2 linked regions of the Homo sapiens genome follow. The protein of the gene in region 1 interacts with the protein of each later gene in a pairwise test. Each region holds a gene or a part of one and is shown on either strand. Other genes may lie near its edges. The genes, in order: PTPRCAP and DCDC2.

Region 1 (10,206 bases):
GTGACACGCTTGTGATGAGCTGGCCACACTTCCGTCAAAGGCGAGCATCGGAGGTGTTAGGGGGAGGCCGGACAGCCACATGGGGAGTTGGCGCCTCACCAACGCGCCCTGGGGCAATGCCAGGGCCCAGGAGCCTCTGCAAAGCCTTTGTGGAGAAGGTGGCTCCATTGACCAAACCTTGAAAGCCCTGAGGGTATCCATAGGTGGGAGCCACACCCAAAAGCATTCTCTCCCATGTCACCTGACCCCTACTCCAGCTAGCCCTGGGACCCGGGGACACATGAGCAGTACTTGCCCAGGCCCTCACCCTCTCTCCTGGTCCCGCAGTTTCTGAAACGGAATCCCAGCCAGCGGATTGGGGGTGGCCCAGGGGATGCTGCTGATGTGCAGGTGGGTTTGGGACCACCACCAGGGGTAGGGCTGAGTCTCCAAGGGTGCCGGGAATGGGGGCAGGGCCCCAGGGCAGAGGGAGTGACCGGGGGGCAAGCAGGGTGAGCTGTTAGTGGGTTTGGTGCATTCTCTACCTACAGAGACATCCCTTTTTCCGGCACATGAATTGGGACGACCTTCTGGCCTGGCGTGTGGACCCCCCTTTCAGGCCCTGTCTGGTGAGCAGCAGGGCTGGTGGCCAGTGGCCGGTGGCGGGTGGCAAGTGGAGAACCTGCATCTTGGTGCCCTCTGACCCCTCCCCACTCTGGTCGGCCCACAGCAGTCAGAGGAGGACGTGAGCCAGTTTGATACCCGCTTCACACGGCAGACGCCGGTGGACAGTCCTGATGACACAGCCCTCAGCGAGAGTGCCAACCAGGCCTTCCTGGTGAGTGCGGGGGCCTGAGGCCTGTGGGACCAGGGCACGGATCGTGACTAAGGATGGCAGGCACTGAGTGTCGCATGGCCCTGCCTCCGCCCCCCAGGGCTTCACATACGTGGCGCCGTCTGTCCTGGACAGCATCAAGGAGGGCTTCTCCTTCCAGCCCAAGCTGCGCTCACCCAGGCGCCTCAACAGTAGCCCCCGGGCCCCCGTCAGGTACTGAGGGACGTGGGGGTGTGTGGCTGGGTTAGGGACGCTGGCAGGCAGGATGCCAGCTCCAGCCTTGGGTGCCTTGGCCACGTCTGTCGGCCAGTGTTGGCTTCGGTTGCTGTGTCTATCATGGGGACCTCAGTTCCTACACCCCTTGTGGCCAGGCTGCCTGGATGGGAGTTTGTGGAGCCCGCGGCCTGTGTGCCTGGGCAGGTGGGAAAGGCTGCCTTCCCTGACTGAGTGCTGGGAGCCTCTGGCAGGGCCTAGGAGGCTCTTATTCTGCCTTGGTTTCCCCTGCAGCCCCCTCAAGTTCTCCCCTTTTGAGGGGTTTCGGCCCAGCCCCAGCCTGCCGGAGCCCACGGAGCTACCTCTACCTCCACTCCTGCCACCGCCGCCGCCCTCGACCACCGCCCCTCTCCCCATCCGTCCCCCCTCAGGGACCAAGAAGTCCAAGAGGGGCCGTGGGCGTCCAGGGCGCTAGGAAGCCGGGTGGGGGTGAGGGTAGCCCTTGAGCCCTGTCCCTGCGGCTGTGAGAGCAGCAGGACCCTGGGCCAGTTCCAGAGACCTGGGGGTGTGTCTGGGGGTGGGGTGTGAGTGCGTATGAAAGTGTGTGTCTGCTGGGGCAGCTGTGCCCCTGAATCATGGGCACGGAGGGCCGCCCGCCACGCCCCGCGCTCAACTGCTCCCGTGGAAGATTAAAGGGCTGAATCATGGTGCTGACCTGGCTCTTTGTGCTGCATGCCTAGGGGCAGGGTTGGGTTGGATTGTGCCAGGAGGAGCCCCTGGTCCAGGAGGGAGGGGTCTCTGTAGGACCACAGGGCCACAGGCTGAAGGAGTTTTATTTCAAATGGTTGCCTGATGCCTGTGGTTGGGGGGGGCCGTTCCCGTGGTGAGCGGGGTACACATGGACTTGGGAACTGGTAGGGGGTGACAGTCTGAGGCATGGTCATGTGGGCTGGGGGTCCAGTCCAGCCATGGCATCTTGGGAAGCAGAGGCACGGGGAGTGAGCGGCTGTGACAGGGATGGGACACCAAGACCGGCCTCTACAGTGCGGTGACATGGAGGCCCTGGCCCCCAGCTGCCCTGGCGCTGTCATCCCAGGCTGCGCTGCCAGCAAAGGCGTGCAGGTCACTCAGCAGGGCCTCAGCACTGCCCCCTGCGCTCGCTGGTCCTGGGGAGCCGAGGACCAGGTCGCCCTCCGTGTCACTGTCTCTGGCTTCCTCAGCCCGCACGGGGACCTGCTCTGGGCTGGACGCCTCTCCACATTGCTGCTCGCCTTCCCCAGGGTCAGCCTGCAGGCCACCATCCGCGACGTGGTCATAGTCTGTGTCCTGCTCATCCTCCTGTCGCTCAAGGTCATTGTCTGTGGACCCCAGCTCAGCTCGGGCCTGCAGCCAGCGACCTGGGGGGCTGGCCCAGAGCAGGCGCCGCGTGCGGCCCCACAGCGCGGCACCTAGGCGGGCCGGGTGGTAGTAGCCCCCTGAGTCACGGCTGAGGCGGCGCCAGGCCAGTGCTAGGCCAGTGGCCAGCAGTAGGAGCAGCAGCAGCAGCAGGACAACGGTGACAGAGCTGGAGCCCACGCTGTCCTCCGCGCTGCCACCCGAGCCCAAGGCCCCTGGCAGGGCCAGCAGCATCCCGAGCCCTAAGGTGCAGGGCAGAGCCTGTGGGAGACAGGCAGGGGCTCAGAGGGCTCAGCACCTGGGGTGGGGCCTGGTGTGGGGCAGGCTGGGTGACCAAGACCACTTTCGTTTTTTTCTCTTTGGGATCCTCTTGGGACAGCCAAGCAGAAAAGGCCAAGGCCTTATTTGGTCAACCAGGCTCTGGCCCTGTGAGATCAGCCCCCATCCCTCCAGCCTCCTCCCTACCACTCACCTCCCCCAACAGCTGCATTAAGCCACCTGCCTGGGGCCTTCGCACTGGCTGTTCCCTCTGCCCGGAAAGCTCCACCTCCTCCCATCCTCCCCTCCCCCGGGCTGCATGGCCTGCTCACCGTGCTCAAACTTCACCCCAGTGAGGCTGAACCTGACCTTAACCTCTACCCTGATGTCTATCACTGCAGCCCACCCCAGCACCCCCCAGCACTCAGTGCCTTTTTCCTTCCATGTCACCTAACGCAGGAGATAACTGTACTCATTTTTTATGTCTATTGTCTTATCTACCCCCCACAATAAGCTGCTAGGAAACGGGGGCTTTTTGGGTCAAGCATGTTAGTAGGTGCTCAATAAGTATGGATTAAATGTGTCTAGGCTGCCTGGGTGGGTGGGAGAGGAGATGGGAGGGAGGGAAGGAGGTTGCTAGCTGGTGTCAGGGCTGGCTCTCCCTGAGGCCTGGGATGGGGGATGGAGGGGCCTGGATGCACCCAGAGGCAACTGCTCATCTTCTGCTTGGCCAGGTCCCCAAACGGGGGTCCGTGAGGCCCCTCTTCCTCCCTCCCCACCACGGGGCTGCCCCAGCGGCAGGGTTTCCGTTCCACTCCCAGTCCCTGAGGGCCACAGGCGTGCAGGGCCGGGGGCTGGGGGGGGCTGGGGGAGGCGGGCGCAGCTGCCAGAGGAAGTCTGCGGTCGGAACAGGCTAGGTGGGGGGTGTCGGGGGAGGGGTGCTGAGGTGCAGCCAGCCTCCCCCACCACCCCAGGCTGTCCGCCCAGGCTCCAGGAATGCAAGTTCCCGCTCACAGGAAGACCAGGTAAGGGCCTTCCCAGGGCTCCTGACAGGGGCCTGGTCCGGTATGGGGTGCTGGGGGCCAGGCCTGGAGTCCCAGGGAGCCCAGCTCAGGTGAGAGAAAGGTTCAGCCTCTGCCATACTCCTCTTAGGTCTCACCTCTTCCCTGGGGCCAATGTGGGGCCCTCCTTAGCTCCACAGGCCCAGACATTCTAGCCCCGACCGCCTGTGGCCCCCATCCCAAGAACCCGGGGGGCTCCGAGGCTTACCATTGGTCCGCAGGCCCCTCCGTGCCGGGCACCCACCTCCAGCTCTGGCTGTGTCGAGCGAGAAGTGAGCTCAGTGCTCGTCTGCAGTGAAGGGTGGCCCAGGCTTCCGCTTCCTGCCCACATACCCCACCTGCCCCTCCCTGCTGCAGGACCCCTGGTCCACACCAGACCCTCCCCAGTCTCTCTGGAGGAGGCTGGGCTGCCGGGCCTGTCCTCCAAGGAAGAAGCAGCACCAACTTGAAGCTGGATGCAGCCTTGCATGTGTTCTCAGGTCTTCTGCCTCAGTTTCCCTGCCTGACAATCCAGGGGAGCAATGCCTGTGGGGCTGCTCACTGCCCCCAGACCTTCTGCACATGTGTGACTCCTGTGACATCCTCTGTCTCCAGGTTTCCAGACTTCTCAGCCCCACCCTTGCAGCAGCAGGTCAGCCTGGCTTTTAGAAAGAGAATTTTATTTGGAATGAAAATATAGAGCCCACCCTCCCGCCTCCTCTGGGGAGGGAGCAGAGGGCTGGGCAGTGGTCGGGGAGATGGTCCCTCAGAGGTCGAGGAGCTCGCCTGGGCGTAGACATCCTCCACAGGAACAGTGAGGAAAGCTGGGCGCTGGCTTCGGCCTGGGCCTGGGACGGGTGGGGGTGGGAACTGACCCCTGCGCTGCCTCAGAGGCTCTGGGCAGCCAGCTAGCCCGGTGCGACCCGCTGGCAGAAGCTGAGTGGGAAGGGGGCGGCGGAGGAGATGAAGGTGGCGTGTGGCTGTGGCCCTACGCATCCCCGTTCTCCATGCGGCCCAGCTGCTCCTCCAGGCGGCAGATGCGGTCGCCCTGCTCCTTGACCAGCGCCCTCAGGGCCCGCAGCTCCTGCATCACCTCCTCCAGCTTCCCAGCCTCCTGTGGGGACATGAAGCAGGGGTAGGGGGCGGTGGTCAGGGGCTGCTAAGCCATAGCCCTCCCAAACCCACCACTACCCCAGAGAGGGACAGCGAATGGCTGAAGCCCACACAGCAGGCCAGGGCCACACCTGGGGCTCCCAGCACCACCCCTGCCTGCGCGTGCATACCCCGGCTCTGGCCAGGCTGCCGCTGGGGGTGGCATCAGCAGCAGTGGTGGTGGAGGCGGGGGCCCCTAGGTGGGAGGAGCCCGGGGCCATGGCGGGCCGGCTGTCAGACAACACGTTGCGCCGGCTGATCTTCAGGTCCCGCTGCTTGCTGGGCACGTAGGCCTCCCGCAGTGAGATGAGGATCGGGTCGGCATCCCGCCCGCTCACCCACTCCTCAGCCTCCAGGGCTGCCTCGGGCCCGGCTGTGTCGGGGTACAGATCATCCTGGAAGAGGTCCGACTGGGCAGGGGGCCGGGGAGGTCAGGATCAGTTAGGAGGCCCCATCAGGGTCCCCTCATCCCTCCCCTGGCCTCCAGGCTTGCACTCTGTTAACCCATTCTCCCACGGCCTGGAAAGCTCAAATCTGGCCTTTAACTTCCTTTCTGGACACCATCAACAGCTCCCTCGGAAGCTTTCCCACCCTTCTGAGCAAGGCCCCTGTCATCACCTTCCCCTGCAAGGCACAGGGGCCACTATGTGGCTTTATGGGATTCTGGGGCCCATGGACTGTGAGCTCCTGGAGCAGGCCCTATCAGCTCAGCTCCACTCCCCAAAATGTGCCTGGCATGTTGAAAGAGCAGTCGGCAAATGCTGGCCAGAGAATCATGGAAGCGTGTCCGAGGCTCTTGGCATCTGAGGCCAAGCCACATGTGGCCCGGTCCCCTCTTCATGGGATTCCCCACTGCAGCCAGACTCCTTGTTCCTCTCTCCATTCCCACCACTGTGCCCTTCGCCTGGCCTGCCCCCAGTGGATGGCGCCACCCCAGCTGTGTTATGGGTCCTGCCTCCTTCAGGAAGATCTGTGTGGCTGCCACTCCCTCCCTGACTGCCTGGTGTCCTTCTCCTGTGGCTCATCCAGAGCAGGGCCCCTGCTCACCCTCTGTCTCATCCCCACTTGCCCCCTGACTGGCACAGCCCAACAGCTGGCTGGTACAAGGGCAAGCTGGCATCTGTCCAGCTCACTGCCCACAAACCATACTAGGTCATGTTCCATTCACAGGCCTCGCCCTGGTCACAACTGCATGGCCCGCTTGCTGGAGAAAGGGCCAAGTGAGCCGAGGGACGGGCGGCCTCACCTTTCTTGGCACAGTCATGACGATGGGCTCACACTTGCGCTCATGCAGTTTGTAGAACCTGGGGATGCAAGGAGGAGCCACGGGTGGAACCCTCACCGCCCCCCCCACCCACCGCCAGCTCTCCTGGCATCCTCCACTTCCAGTCCTCACCCCAGGACCTCCGCAGGCCGACCCCTAAGGTGGCTAGACCCCCACACGGGCTGCCTCGTGACAGTTCTCATGGCCCGCCGGGCCTCCCTGGCGCAAGGTTTCCTGCTCCCAAGCAGCCTCCAATGACCTGACCTCTCACCTTAGATGCCCCTATCCCCGAGTGGCCTCGGTAGCCCTCTTACCGGGCGATCTCGCACTTGCTGACCTCCAGGCCCCGCTTGGGCATGCTGCCCATACCCCGCTGCGGCTCCTTGCTGGTGAACGTGTTCAGGAAGTGGATGTAGGGAGGCTCCTCTGTGATCTCAAAGTACCGGATGCTGGAGTCACCCTGTGTGGGGAGGGGGCTCAGCACCTGGGCACGCCTCTTCCCTGCCCCTCGCCAGCCCTGCCCAGCCCCACCTTGCCGCAGACGTAGACCACACTGGTGTCGGGGTCGTAGAAGGGCAGCAGGGCCCCGTTGCTCGAGTCCAGTTCCTGCAGGGCCATGGGTTCCTCGAGGTTTTCCTGGCACATTGCAGGCAGTCAGGCCAAGCAGAACCTCCTCACCCCCTAATCCCAAACCAGGACGGGCCTTAGCTGGCCTCACTAAGGCCAGCCAGCACTGCCCCTAAATGCAGGTGGGCCCTCTGCCATCTCTATGCCTTTTCCCACATGACGACCCCCACCTGGCCCTCCTGGCTTCACTTTATTCCCAGGGTCCCTCTTTTCCAGCCTCCTCCAGGCCTTAAGACTATGCCCAGGCCACTAAGCAAGTGCTGAAACATACCTCACTGTGGGGAGCTGGGGTGCCAGCGGCACCAGCCCCTGCTCAAGGTGCCCTGGAGGTCACTATGCAGAAGCAGAGAGGGCTGGGGCCAGGAGGCTTGCTGGAGGAGGAGGCTTTCTGGAGGAGCGGGGAGCCCTGTGCAGGCAGTGGGTGGTACAGGCAAGCAAGGGAGAGAAGGGCCCTTCCGTTGGCATGAACAACATGGGCAAAGACACAGAGGCAGTGGGAGGCCATGGGGGAGTGGTGGGGCAGTCGGGCGAGCAGGGGGCAGGAGAGGAAAGTCTGACAGAGTCCTAGGCCCTGAGAGCCTCAAGTTCCAGGCAGAGAAGCTAGGAACCACAGGCCTCCCCAGGGTGAACCCTGCCTGCCTGGCCCAGGGTGGGGCCCAAGTCTCAAGTTTGCCCCCTCAGGCTGGCCACTCACTGGGTCCCAGAGCGCCAGCTGCCGCTCGCTCATTCGGCTGAAGCCTGTGGTGAACACCTTGCCATCTGCCAGGAAGATGGCCCGCATGGGCCGGGCCCCCTCATGAGCCTTCTCCCGCTCCTGTCGGGGGGACAGGCTGGTCAGTGCAGCGCCCTGCTCAAGGTCCTGGGCCTATCCACAGCCATCCTTGCCCTCCAGAGCCACGTACTGCCACCAGGGTGCCCCGACGGGGGTCGATGATGCGCACGCTCTTGTCCTTGCATGCTGAGCAAAACAGGCTGCCATTGTGGTTCCAGCTGACATTGTAGATGAGGTCAGGGTGCAGGCTGTCCAGGCGGTACAGCTCCTCCGCTGTGCCCACATTCCAGATGAGTACCACGTTGTCGCAGCCTGGCAGGTGAGGGTTGTCAGCTCGGGCCGGGTGGGTGGCAGGAGGCCATTAGCTCACCAGGCTGAGGCCCACTCTGCCCACCACCCTGGGACAGACGGGTCTCTCCAACTCTGAGGGCCTCAGCTTTCCCATTTGTCATGTGGGCCCTGGAGGGGCTGCTGGGATGTATGGAGGGGTCCGTGGGGGGGGGGAGCACAAAACGGGGGGCGGTGCAGACCTGCACTGAGCAGCACGTTTCGGGCCGTGGGGTGCCAGGCGATGATGCCCACTCGCTTGGTGTGCCCCTCCAGTACCACCACCGGCTCTGTCAGCGGGGAGGTCAGCCCGTTCTCTGGGATCTGCCACACCTGTGGTAGGGACAGGGCCACCGAGCTCAGTCCTCTGCTGGTCCTATTGCTGGCCCCCTTCGGCCACACCCACGACCCTGGCCCAGCCAGTCCTGTGCCTCACCATGACCGTGCAGTCCTCCGAGCCGCTGGCTATGACTTCGTCGTTGTGAGGACACCAGTCGATGTCCAGGACAGGTCCCGTGTGCCCACACACCGTCGGGTAGGCCTTGTCAATGCGGCCCGTCTGTGGGCACGAGGGGGCAGTCAGTGGGCTCCATCCCTCCCGAAGCCTTGGTCTTCCCCTCCATGGAGTGGGAATGACATGCACGTCCCGGCTCACAGGTGGCCCAGATGTGACTGTGCCCCACTTGCCAGGTGAGCAGGAAATGTTTGCTGCCTCTAACCCTGCCTCTATGGCAACAGGCTACTTTCCATCTGTGCTAACACTTGGGGCGATAAATCTGGGTTATAACACCTGCCCAGCAGTGTGAGAAACGGCAAGATGAGGGATTCAAGGTGTGCAGAAAGGCCCAGTAGGGGTGGCCGAGGTGCCTCCTCTTCCCCCAACCCTGACAGGACCCACCTTGCTTAGGGGGAGCACCAGAAAGGCACCCCCTCCACTGGCCTCCACAATCACCGCCAGGAACTTGGGGTTGACGGCGCAGAAGGTGCTGTCCCAGGTAACACGGGACACGCGAATGTCCTCATAGCACTGGTCGTTCTTGACCGGCTGCCCGAACACATGCCGGAATTTGCTCTGCCGGACCACTTTGCGGAAGGACATGTCTGCGGGACAGAGAGGCCTGGGTCAGTCCGGCCCATCCCAACAACTCCAGCCCTCCCCAGGCTGCTGAAGGTGAGCCGGGAGGATGCAACCGGGGGCCAGGCCACCGTAACCCTCCTGGGTCTCGGTTTACCCAGTTACAGAATGGGGTCACAGGTGCAGAGCCTGGCCGCCTGTCACCCCGCAGGCAGTGATCTGAGAGGTAAATGCTCCGGCCCTGACCACTGCTGAGTCCTGAGGGGCTTTGCAGGACGCAGGGCCCCTCCCTGGCTCTGGTGTGTGTCGGGGGCAGGAGGTGGGAGGTGCCGGGGTTGGAGAGCTCTCAGCTCTACTGTAGGTCCCAGCCAGTCGGGAGCAGCCTCCTTCCTGCTCCCAGAGATTTGGAGGCTAGGTAATGGGGAAGAAGGAGAGAGGAAGCAGGAAAAGTCTCTCTACTGTGGGGCCGAGTGAGTGCCCAGTTCTGAGTCCCAGGGAATGTCCAGGGAGCCCCGGCATGGCCCCCAGGAAGGGACGGGGTCGGGACGCAGCTGTGGGCCGCGAAGCAACCCAGAGCGGCCTCGAATCGGGGTCCAGGGTGAACCAGGAGCCCAACTTCCAGGGACCTCCGCCCAGGAGAGGAGAGGCTGGGCGGCCAAGGGGAGTGGGACTGAGTGGGGTAGAGGGGAGGCGAAAGGCTCCTGGGACCCGCGATCCCCCCTCAGCCCCCTCAGCCCGGCCCCTGCAGCCCCGCCCAGCCCCCAGCCCGCGCCCCTAGCCCCGGCCCTGCCGCGCTCACCGGGGGCACCGGGGGCGCAGGGGGCTGCGGCACCGGCTTCGGGCGGCTCCGGATCCCGGCCTCTGGGAAGCAGGAAGCAGGATTCAGGAAGTGACAGAGGGACCCGGAGCGGGGGCGGGGCAGGGGCTCGCGGGGGCGGGGCCGAGGTCACGCGCGGAGGGGCTGGGCGGGAGGCTGAGCGGCGCCGGGGGGCCGGGAGCGGGGCCGCCGGGGACGGGGCCAGAGAGAGCCCCTTTCCTAGGACCCGGTGGAGCGCCCCCACCGCAGCTCCTCCGGAAGAAGGGGGCGGGGCGGGGCAGGGCCGACGGCGGCCGCCGCAGAGGCGCCGCAGGTGCGGGTGCAGCCTTACAGCGGACCCGAGGCCCCTTCGCGTTCTTGCTCCTCATAATGGCATCCGCAGGAGTCTCCAGGATTGGGTGAGGCCCCGCCTTCCCGGCCCCCGACGGAACGCACACCTCCAAGGGGCCCCA
Region 2 (10,801 bases), on another chromosome or scaffold:
CACATAAGCTTTCACGAACTATGCTTAACTCGTACTTCGATAGAAGCTAAAACACAGGTGTTTTCCTGACATCACAAAGTGTCCAACGTGACATCTACTCATCTCCTTTGAAAGCCTCAGGGGCAGTTAGGGTGACCCTGGCTACATCAAACACTGAGTTATCAGAGGCACATTAGGATGAGGATGTAGCTTTGGTAAAGATTTATTTAACAACGCTCAGAATCTTCTCACTTGACAGGGAACCTTCCCATGGATTTCAATCAGAGAACATGTAGCTAGAAAAGAGAAAAATATGTTTTGTCTAATCTTGACATATCCTGCACATCTTAGAACATCTACTCAGTCTTTTCATTTCTGACAATGATTCAAAGAAAGAATTATCTTTGCCTTAAAACATATAATGTTCCATTTCTTTACATTAGAGAACTCATCAAAGTAGAATGCCGTCCAAATCTCTAAGACACACCATAAGAAACAAATGGCACCGTTATTTATTTGAATTTTCAAAATAATATTTGCATTACCTCTGTATTAACAACTTCCATTGGTCTTTTCTTGATTTCTCCTATGTCCAAGTAACTGAGGAAAAAACAAACAAACAATAAGAGTTGCTTTTATAGACTTTAAGTCAGTAATTTATTTTTAAAAATCATAAAAAAATAAAGCAACTCATAGGAAATTCTCAACCTTAAAGCAAAAACAAATAGCTACTAATGAAAAGCAATTACAATAGTAAAAACTGTTTGCAGTGTCACCAACCAGAGCTGACATATGTCTACCCTAAACTTCAAGAGAAGGAAAGTCTTAGAAATACATACATCTATTAGAGAACATTTTTCCCTCTTAATAGTTAGCTGCTTACTATATACACTATATTCTTACAGATTTGATTTTTTAAAAGAGTGGCTTATGTGCAAAGCTGCTTAACTGTTCCATTAAATACAGGCTTTAGGTCAAAGGAAGTACTGATAGCGTGCATTAGGGTAACAACTGGGAAAGGCTGAGAAATTATTGTCTCTATGAGAGCACCTTAATGATACAAAAACACTCACTCATGTGGGATGACTTTGGTAATTGGTTCAGCTAAGAAACAGATGGGTGGACTAGTTAACCTCTGGAGACCCCTATTATTCCATTACTATTTGCTCTAGATACTAACAGTGATCATTCTTTAGCTGTTACATAAGCACAACCTGAAAACTGTATACCTTTGTCAACTTCACGTGTAATATCACTGTGATGTGGTTCCAGTTTTAAATGGTCCCTAAACTGTGCTTCATACATAAAATGTGCTAAATAAACATTTTAATATTAAAAAGTATAAATCTAACATATAATTTATAATGATAGATCAATCCTTTACCCCAACTACTACAATTGCCAACTTGTCCCAAAAAAAGCTTATGTTAGAATTAATTTTGGCTATTGAAATGTTTTTATTGTTGCTGTTTGCCTTTTTGGATAAAATACTTTAGTTAATTCATATCTCTGGAAATTGTCATACAATGCCCCTATATAAAAGTAGTCATATTTTTAAAACAGTGCAAACACTCCGTCTTAGCAATAAAATGGGTCTTTTGTGGACCTGCAGGGGCTGAGTTTTGAAATAATACCAAAATATTCTGTCATGTGCAGGAAAGTGGTTTCAGATCCACAAGATTAATGCTGCAGAGTCAACTTCCAACAATGCACAGGGAAAGTTTTGGGGGAAATACTCTCTAGAATCCTCTGCTGTAAAATAAAGGTTGTGAATGTATGGTCTCACATTTGAAATAAATAAGGGTTTAATAGCTACCTGATGTTTAGTTATCGTTTCAAAAATATTAGAAAAATCTAAGTGAAAGCAATTCAAGCAGCGATTTGATCAGTTCCATTTGAAAAAGATGTTGCTGTCTTTCCCAACATTTAGGGTCTAAATGAAAGCCCACGAATTGTCCTCAATATCGTTTGGGCTTTCTTTTGTTCTGACAGTTTCTCCATTCTTTACATAAACTTATAAGTGCTAAGTTTCAAATATATTCAACATTCAAGTATTCTTGGCTTCTATCATTATAACCGTAGATACTACTTCTTTAACACAAATAAAATAGTCATCTGTCAGCATGGAAACCTAACCATGGACACTGTTATAACAAATTCAGTTTTTTGTGTATGAACTGAAAGCAAAAATAACATGCAAATCTCTTAGAGAGACTTGAGTACACTTTTTTATTTGGTGTGGAACTGTACCTTTTTTTTTTAATCTTGTGAGTTGGTAGGATCAAATAAACAAAAGAACATGAACTATAAAAGTGAGTCTACAATTTTCAGCCGTTCAGAGATTCTGAACCAGACTTTCATTTCCACGAAATTGCTTTAGACGGAAATATTTAATAAAAAATAAAGTATGTAACAAAAGGAACTGGTCATAGAGGTGTCTTATATTTATGTAACACTTTGGTGTTTACAAAACACACATCTATAGCATTTACTTTTTATCACAGCCCTGTGTGGTACAAATGATTATGCACCTTTTCTGTATTAAGAAACTGATTAGCTGAGTCAAGCGACTTGCCCAAGGACACAGAGCTGATGAGCAACTCAGTCTTCAGTCTCCTGGTTTTAAGTTTCCTTTAAGCATGCAATTTCATTTAGCCCTTTTTTACGAAGTTTAACAAAGCATGCTTAAGAAGCTTCAGGGGAGGGAAAAATAAATCCAAATATATCCCTCACTTTCCATGAAAAGAATGTCTGACGTAACAAAAAGTATAATAGAATACCTAGAACTCAATTTAAACAAATATAGGAGAAGAAGGATTACATTCAAGAATTTTAGTGATATTTTGAAAAATATTTCTATGTAGTTATAAGACTTTATTTGAATTTTAATTATTAAGAATCCAATAATGCTTATGAATTCATAAGCTTAGATTTATGGTCAAGGCTTTTTTCTATCCTGGGGCCCAAGATGAATTTCAATTAAAATGTTCTATTAAACTATGGAATACAGAGTTACCATGTGATCCAGCAATTTCACTCTTAGGTATACACCAAAGAGAAATGAAAACTTGTACACAAATATTCATAGATGCATTATTCATAATAGTTAAAATGTGAAACAACCCAAATATACATCAAACTGATAAATGGATAAGCATGGATATAAAAGGTAATATACCCAAATCATGGAATGTTATTCAACAATAAAAAGAATGAAGTATTGATGTATGATACAACATGGATGAACCTTGAAAATGTTACAGTAAGTGAAATAAGCCAGACATAAAGACCATATACCGTATGATTCCATTTATATGATATGTCCAGAATAGACAAATCCATAGATTCAGAAAATAGATTAGTGGTTTCCAGATGACAGGGGACAGAGGAAACTGGGAGGTACAAATGTTTTGGCGGGAGGGGTGGAAATGAACTACAATTAGTTGGTGGTGATGGTTGCACAACTCTGAATACACTGAAAGCCAATGAAATGGTTGGACTTCATGCCATGAGAAATCTATCTCAATAAAGCTGTAAAAAAAAAATGGAATGTAAAATTCTACCTGTCCTATAATGACCACCCCAACCAACTCTCAACTCACAATTCCCACATAACTTTATTTTTCTATGCACATATCCCTTTGTAGCTTGCATTAAAATTGTTAGTGTGCAGGTAGTCCAGTTAGACTGAAAGCTCCTAAAGACAAGGAATCATGCCTTGCTCATCTTTGTTCCCTGAACTGACGGTTTCTTAATTCACTGAACACTCACTATGAGTGAGCTCAAGAGCTGGGAATAAGGACCCCTGCCCTTGAAGGTCTAATCACGTTGCTGGAGACAGACAGTCGACAAATACAGTCAGCCAGTAAACTCTTCCTGCATTATGCTAACAGCATAAACATGCAGGGGGTGGGAGCAGGGTCACAAAAGTGAGTGTTGTCAATTCTACTTGGAATGAAAGGTTGAAATAATTTAAACAGTACGGGAAATGCAGAGCAATTTTCTCCTCTGGTGACAATATAGTGTCCAACACTTGGAAGTGATTTTTAAGAATGTTTATTTAAATTAAAAGGATGGATTTCCAAGGAAAAAAAATAAGGAAAAGGAAAGAAAAAACTGAACAGAAAACGCAAAAGTATCAGTTTGGTCACTAACCTTTGCAAGGATACCTTTTTATTTTCTTTAAGATTCCTGTTGTTTATACACAGATTTTAAGTTTACTCCTACTGCTGACCCAAGTGAAATTCCTTCTCCAGTCACAGTGTCAACCTCTACCCCCCAACTGCAACGAGAGTTTTGAGGGGCATCAATCACACCGAGAAGTCACAGCCCCTCAACCACTGAGGTGTGGGGGGGTAGGGATCTGCATTTCTTCATATCAACCCCACACTATAGGGCACCTAAATGGGTGGGCGGTGGGGGAGACCGACTCACTTGAGTTTCTTGAAGGCTTCCTGGCCTCCAGCCACGTAATTGCCCCCGCTCTGGATCTGGTCTAGCTTCCGGATTCGGTGGCCAGTCCGCGGGGTGTAGATGTTCCTGACGGCCCCAAAGGGTGCCTGAACGCCGCCGGTCACCTCCTTCAGGAAGACTTCGAAGCTGGACACCTTCTTCTCATGGATGACGACGCGGCGCCCCGCGTAGAAGGGGTCCCCGTTGCGGTACACAAGCACGCTCTTCACGACGGGCTGAGACAGGTGGCTGGACCTGGCGCTGCTGCCGCTCATCTTCCCCGCTGGCCGCCGCCTCAGCTCGCTGCTTCGCGTCGGGAGGCACCTCCGCTGTCCCAGCGGCCTCACCGCACCCAGGGCGCGGGATCGCCTCCTGAAACGAACGAGAAACTGACGAATCCACAGGTGAAAGAGAAGTAACGGCCGTGCGCCTAGGCGTCCACCCAGAGGAGACACTAGGAGCTTGCAGGACTCGGAGTAGACGCTCAAGTTTTTCACCGTGGCGTGCACAGCCAATCAGGACCCGCAGTGCGCGCACCACACCAGGTTCACCTGCTACGGGCAGAATCAAGGTGGACAGCTTCTGAGCAGGAGCCGGAAACGCGCGGGGCCTTCAAACAGGCACGCCTAGTGAGGGCAGGAGAGAGGAGGACGCACACACACACACACACACAAATATGGTGAAACCCAATTTCTTACATCATATCTGTGCTACCCTTTCCAAACAGCCTAATTTTTCTTTTCTCTCTTCTTGCACCTTTACCCCTCAATCTCCTGCTTGCTCCCAAATTAAAGCAATTAAGTTCCTGGATGTAGTTGCCCAGGTTTTTCTTTGCTGGAAGATAAATGTGCAAAGCCAGATGCGGTGGCTTACGCCTGCAAATTCCAGTACTTTGAGGGGCCCAGGCGGGAGGGCTGCCTAAGACCAGGAGTTCTAGACCAGCCTGGGAAACACAGGGAAAGCCCCCGTCTCTATAACGCGCCTGTGATCCCCTGAGGCAAGGAGTTTGAGACCAGCCTGACCCGGTCTCTACAATTAAAAAAAAAAAAAAAAAAAAAAAGTAGGTGGGCAGGGTATTCGCCTGTGGACCCAGCTATCTCGGAGGCTGAGGCGGGAGGATTGTTTGAGCCCAGGAGGTCGAGGCTGCAGTAACCTATGATTTTGCCACTGCACTCCAGCCTGGGCGACACAGCAAGACCCTGTCTTAGAAAATAAAATATATATTTTTTTTATATATATATTTTATATATTTTATTTTATATATATTTTATTTATTTATTTATATATTATATATTTTTATATATAATATATAAAATATATATTTTATATATTATATATAAATATATATATTATATTTATATATATATTTATATATTATATATAATATATATAATATATATGTATTATATATATTTATATATATAATATATTATATATTATATATATTATATATTATATATTTTATATATTATATATTATATATTATATATTATATATTTTATACATTATATATTATATATTATATATTTTATATATTATATATTTTATATTTTATATTTTATATATATTATATATTTTATATATCATATATATTATATATCATATATTTTTATATATTATATATTTTATATATTATATATTATATATATTATATATTTTATATATATTATATATTTTATATATTTTATATATTTTATATATATTTTATATATTTTATATATTATATATATTTTATATATTATATATTTTATATATTTTATATATTTTATATATTATATATAATATATATTTTATATTTTATATATATTATATATTTTATATTTTTTATATATATTATATATTTTATATTTTTATATATATTATATATTATATATATTTTATGTATATTATATATTATATATATTTTATATATTATATATTATATATATTTTATATATTATATATTATATATATTTATATATACTATATAGTATATATATTTATATATACTATATAATATATATTTTATATATAATATATTATATATATTTTATATATTATATATATTTTATATATATTTTTTATATATTTTATATATATTATATATTTTTATATATATATTTTATATATATTATATATATTCAGAGAGAGAAAGAGAGAATCCGGGTACCGTGACTCATGCCTGTAACCCCAGCACTTTGGGAAACTGAGGCAGGAGGCTCACTTGAGCCCGGGAGTTTGAGACCAACCTGAGCAGCACAGCAAGACCCCATCCCGGAAGGAGGGAGGGAAGGAAGGAAGGGAAAAATAACATTTAAGTGAATGAATGAATGAATGAGAAACAGAGCGAAGACTCGCGTGTCTAGGACCCCTAACCCCCTCCCCGATGATCAGCGCCGCCTGGCGGCGAAGCTCGGGTGCGCATCACGTGAAGACAGCAGGCAGCGCGCAAGCGGGGCCCTGGTTGGGGAGGCGGGCCCAGGAGGTGCCCTCCGCCGTAGTACCTACCGACACTCGCGTGCTGGAGAGGGGAGGGGAGCTCGGGCGCCGGCCGCGCGGGGGCGGGGCGGTGCGGCTCGGGTGGCACAGTGGTGAACTCTGCGGCGGCTGCGCGCCGCTCACGCTGTTCCTCCAGCTGCTGTTACCTCTGCGGGCCTCTCTCACCCAAGGGGAACGGAGTTGTTATTTCCCGCTGTTTCCATAGCAACCGCAGCCTCGCGCGGGGAGCGAGTCAGTGAACCAGGCCTGGCTTGCGCCTGGCTCCTTGGGATATGCTGGCTGCGTGGGGCAGAGGCGGAAGAACAGGGGTTTGGAGGAAGAGGGAGAAACAGGTGACATGATCATGCGCTCATTCATCATGCGCTCATTCAGTAAATGGACGCCTGCTGTGTGCAAGGCCCTGTGCTAGTTGGGGCCACGGCGGTGAAAAGGAAAACCTACAAAATTTTGAGTGCCTACCCTGTGCCAAGCTTTACGCCAGGGAAAGGATTTTTTCACTGCCGCAAGAAGGCTAAATGTCTGACTGGCTGTCCAAGAGCCCACATCTGTGCTATTTGTGTAGATTGTTAGCTCTGTCTGAGGAATAACAGGGAGAGGAGTTGTGAGAATAGTAACAGCCCCAGTAAAGAGTCGCTTTGTCCAGTCCAGTCTGGGACATACATATTGTGGCACCAGGAAAATGTTTAAAGAGTTGAAATTTTGCAGCTCATCTCTGCCAGTGTTTCCTTCATTCCTCCTAAGACTTTTCTACCATGTGTCATGTCCAAATTACTGGGTGTTCCTAACTCATCATGTACGAATAAAAAGAACTGCCATTAATTGAACACTATAACCATGGACCAGGCATTATGTAAGGCACTTTATGTAGATTATCTAATATTCACAATAACCTTCAGAGGTAAATATTATTCTTTCCTCAGATGAGGAAACTGAAGGGTAGAGAAATCAAAGACATTTACCTCAGGTCACACACACAGGAATTCAAACCCATTCTAAGGATTAGAAAACGAAAGAGAGAGAGAGAGTTCAAACCCAGTTCTGTCTTATTCCACAAGCTCCATAACCAGTCATATCACTGTGAAAGATGAATGTGTGGGACATTGCAATCTGGAGAGAAACTTTTTTTTTCCTTCGAGATTTCTGTTCTGAAGAAATATTTTTATTAAAGCCATGTAATACATTAATGCTTTGAAAGTTAACAGTTTTCAAACGCAGGAACAAAAAACCAAATACCCGCATGTTCTCACATATAAGTAGGAGTTAAATGAGGAGAACTCACGGACACAAAGAAGGGAACAACAGATACTGGGGCCTACTTGAGGGTGGAGCGTGGGAGGAGGGAGAGGAGCAGAAAAAATAACTGTTGAGTATCAGGCTTAGTACCTGGGTGATGAAATAATCTGTACAACAAACCTCCGTGACACGAGTTACCTATATAACAAATCTGCACATGTACCCCTGAACCTAAAATGAAAGTTAAAAAAAAAAAAAGTTAACAAATTTCAAAAGAAGGCCAAAGAGAACAATACAGGGAGGAAATAGACAAGGGAAATTTTGTGAGCTGCTTGTGGAGAATGCACAGGTTGAGGGATGGATGGGGAAAATACCTGTGAAAATGTGCTACCACATAGGTGAGTAAGACAGAATACTTGTTATGTGGAAATGGAAGGCAATCAATTAAGTAGCCCCCTCCCCAAACAACCTAAAATTCCCTATCATCTATATTAGCCCAGTGTAAAATGAAAATGTGGCCTCTTATTCAAAAATTAAGAATTTTATGTTAGCAACAGCAGAGCATTAAACCAATCATGGGGTCCTTCTTGATGTGGGGACCCTGACGCCAGCCCATGAAGCTGCCCGCATCAAGTCTATGCCTCCCACTGCGGTATCTCCAACCCGGATGTGTCTCCTGAGCTTAGATTCATTTATCCAGATGTCTCTTGGATATGATGTGGTGATAAGTGTTTAACTGCTGGCTTTTAGGAGGGAAGAGAAGGCCTTAATTCATAGCATTTGCCAATCTCTGTAGTTTACTCCAAATATGGCCAATTTCCAGATGCCAGTCTAACATCACTGAAGCCATGAAATGTGCAGTAGCAAGTCATTGTATGGTATTTCCACCATGCAGGCACAGCAGACTTGTGTAACTTTAAGAGCACAGATAGTAGTAAAATGTAGATGGAGATGAGTTTTGAGTATTTATTATCTTTGTTTTCAATGTAATTTATTTAATTGTATATTTATACAATTATTTTTTATTTAATTGCATATTTATACAATTTTTATTTAATTGTATATTTATACAATTATTTTTTATTTAATTGTATGTTTATACAATTATTTTTTATTTAATTGTATGTTGATACAATTATTTTTTATTTAATTGTATGTTGATACAATTATTTTTTATTTAATTGTATGTTTATACAATTATTTTTTATTTAATTGTATATTTATACAATTATTTTTTATTTAATTGTATATTTATACAATTATTTTTTATTTAATTGTATATTTATACAATTTTTTTATTTAATTGTATATTTATACAATTATTTTTTATTTAATTGTATATTTATACAATTATTTTTTATTTAATCGTATATTTATAAAATTACTTTTTAACAATGCCCATGTTTACAATTCCTGAGAATTTAACAGTTGCCTCACACGCCAGAACAAGGCAGTTCCAGGCACACAATTCTCCTGACAGCTTCTCTAGACCATCTAAAAGGCAGCCTAGACTCGAAACGTTCACGGGATCTCAAGTTTTCCTCAAAATCACTTTTCCTATGTTTCCTGTCTCCACAAATGGACCCTCATCTACTCATTTGCTCAAAGCTAGAACATATACATTTCTCTTCTTCACAGAACACATTTAACTGTGGCAGAGGAACAACAAAAACAGTCAGATATTTGCAATCTCTCTCCCTGCTCCAGATGCTTGCTGAATTGGTTTTGGAGCTCTTCTCTCTTGTGCAAAGTCCGAACACTGAGCAAAGTGAGAAGGCTTTAAGAAGCCAGAAAGGTTAGATAAACCCTGATCACGAAGAGCTGAGGTAGAATGAGGAGCGGAATGCTAAGGAATGAGGAGCTTCAGATGGATGCAAGGGAATGTTTGAGAACACACATAGGAAAGGAGGGGAGAGTTTTTGTATTTTAGCTTCTTCCTAAGTATATGAAAGGCATTGAGAATGAGAGAGATGGCCAAAGAAGATTCTTAAAGAAGTGTTGCTGTGCATTAAAAATAATACCACCAGCAGGGCACGGTGGCTCAAGCCTGTAATCCCAGCACTTTGAGATGCTGAGGCAGGTGGATTGCTTGAGCCCAGCAGTTTGAGACCAGCCTGGCCAACATGGCAAAACCCCATCTCTAAAAAAACAAAAAACTAAAAAAATTATCAGGGCATAGTGGCATGCTCCTGTAGTCCCAGCTACTCAGGAGACTGAGGTGGGAGAATCATCAGAGCCTGGGAAGTTGAGGCTGCAGTGAGCCATGCTCATGCCGTTACACTGCAGCCTGGGTAACAGAATAAGACCCTGTCTCAAAAAATCAAAAAGAAAAATAATAATACCAACAAGGCATTTGCTGTTTCCTCAAGAGCCTAGATCTCTGAAATGCTTTCAATTATATATTTCTGCTTAAGCAATATTTATTTTGATGTAATACTGTGCTAAAACCAGACCACATTGCACCCTAGGTTTATAAGGGCTCTTCAACTAATCACCAAGTTCTATCAATTCTATCTCTCAAATATTTTTTAAATCCATCCACTTATCTCCAAACCCATTTCCACATTTTGAATTCAAGGCATCATCATCCCCTAAGAGGTAACCCTGTCTCCAGTTTGCTTCCCTATTATCCATTCTCCACAGAACAGTCATCCTGAAA

Evidence for each region.
Region 2: the proteins of PTPRCAP (region 1) and DCDC2 interact in binary tests that used the Homo sapiens proteins (3 or more experiments, as listed by UniProt).

Annotation. Positions count from the first base shown.
Region 1 is NC_000011.10:67,433,668-67,443,873, forward strand, and holds PTPRCAP (protein tyrosine phosphatase receptor type C-associated protein), read right to left. Parts: upstream 4,016-10,206; 5' UTR 3,953-4,015; coding exon 3,950-3,952; exon of another isoform or gene 2,684-3,949; coding exon 2,066-2,683; 3' UTR 1,843-2,065; downstream 1-1,842. Other genes in the region: RPS6KB2 (ribosomal protein S6 kinase beta-2), read left to right, coding at 328-390, 531-608, 710-817, 915-1,027, 1,322-1,502; CORO1B (coronin-1B), read right to left, coding at 4,709-4,834, 5,004-5,282, 6,119-6,176, 6,451-6,596, 6,668-6,772, 7,458-7,577, 7,666-7,847, 8,066-8,195 and 2 more.
Region 2 is NC_000006.12:24,353,045-24,363,845, forward strand, and holds the start of DCDC2 (doublecortin domain-containing protein 2), read right to left. Parts: upstream 5,016-10,801; 5' UTR 4,707-5,015; coding exon 4,414-4,706; exon of another isoform or gene 3,859-4,413; intron 580-3,858; coding exon 525-579; intron 1-524. UniProt on the Homo sapiens protein: Protein that plays a role in the inhibition of canonical Wnt signaling pathway. May be involved in neuronal migration during development of the cerebral neocortex. Involved in the control of ciliogenesis and ciliary length.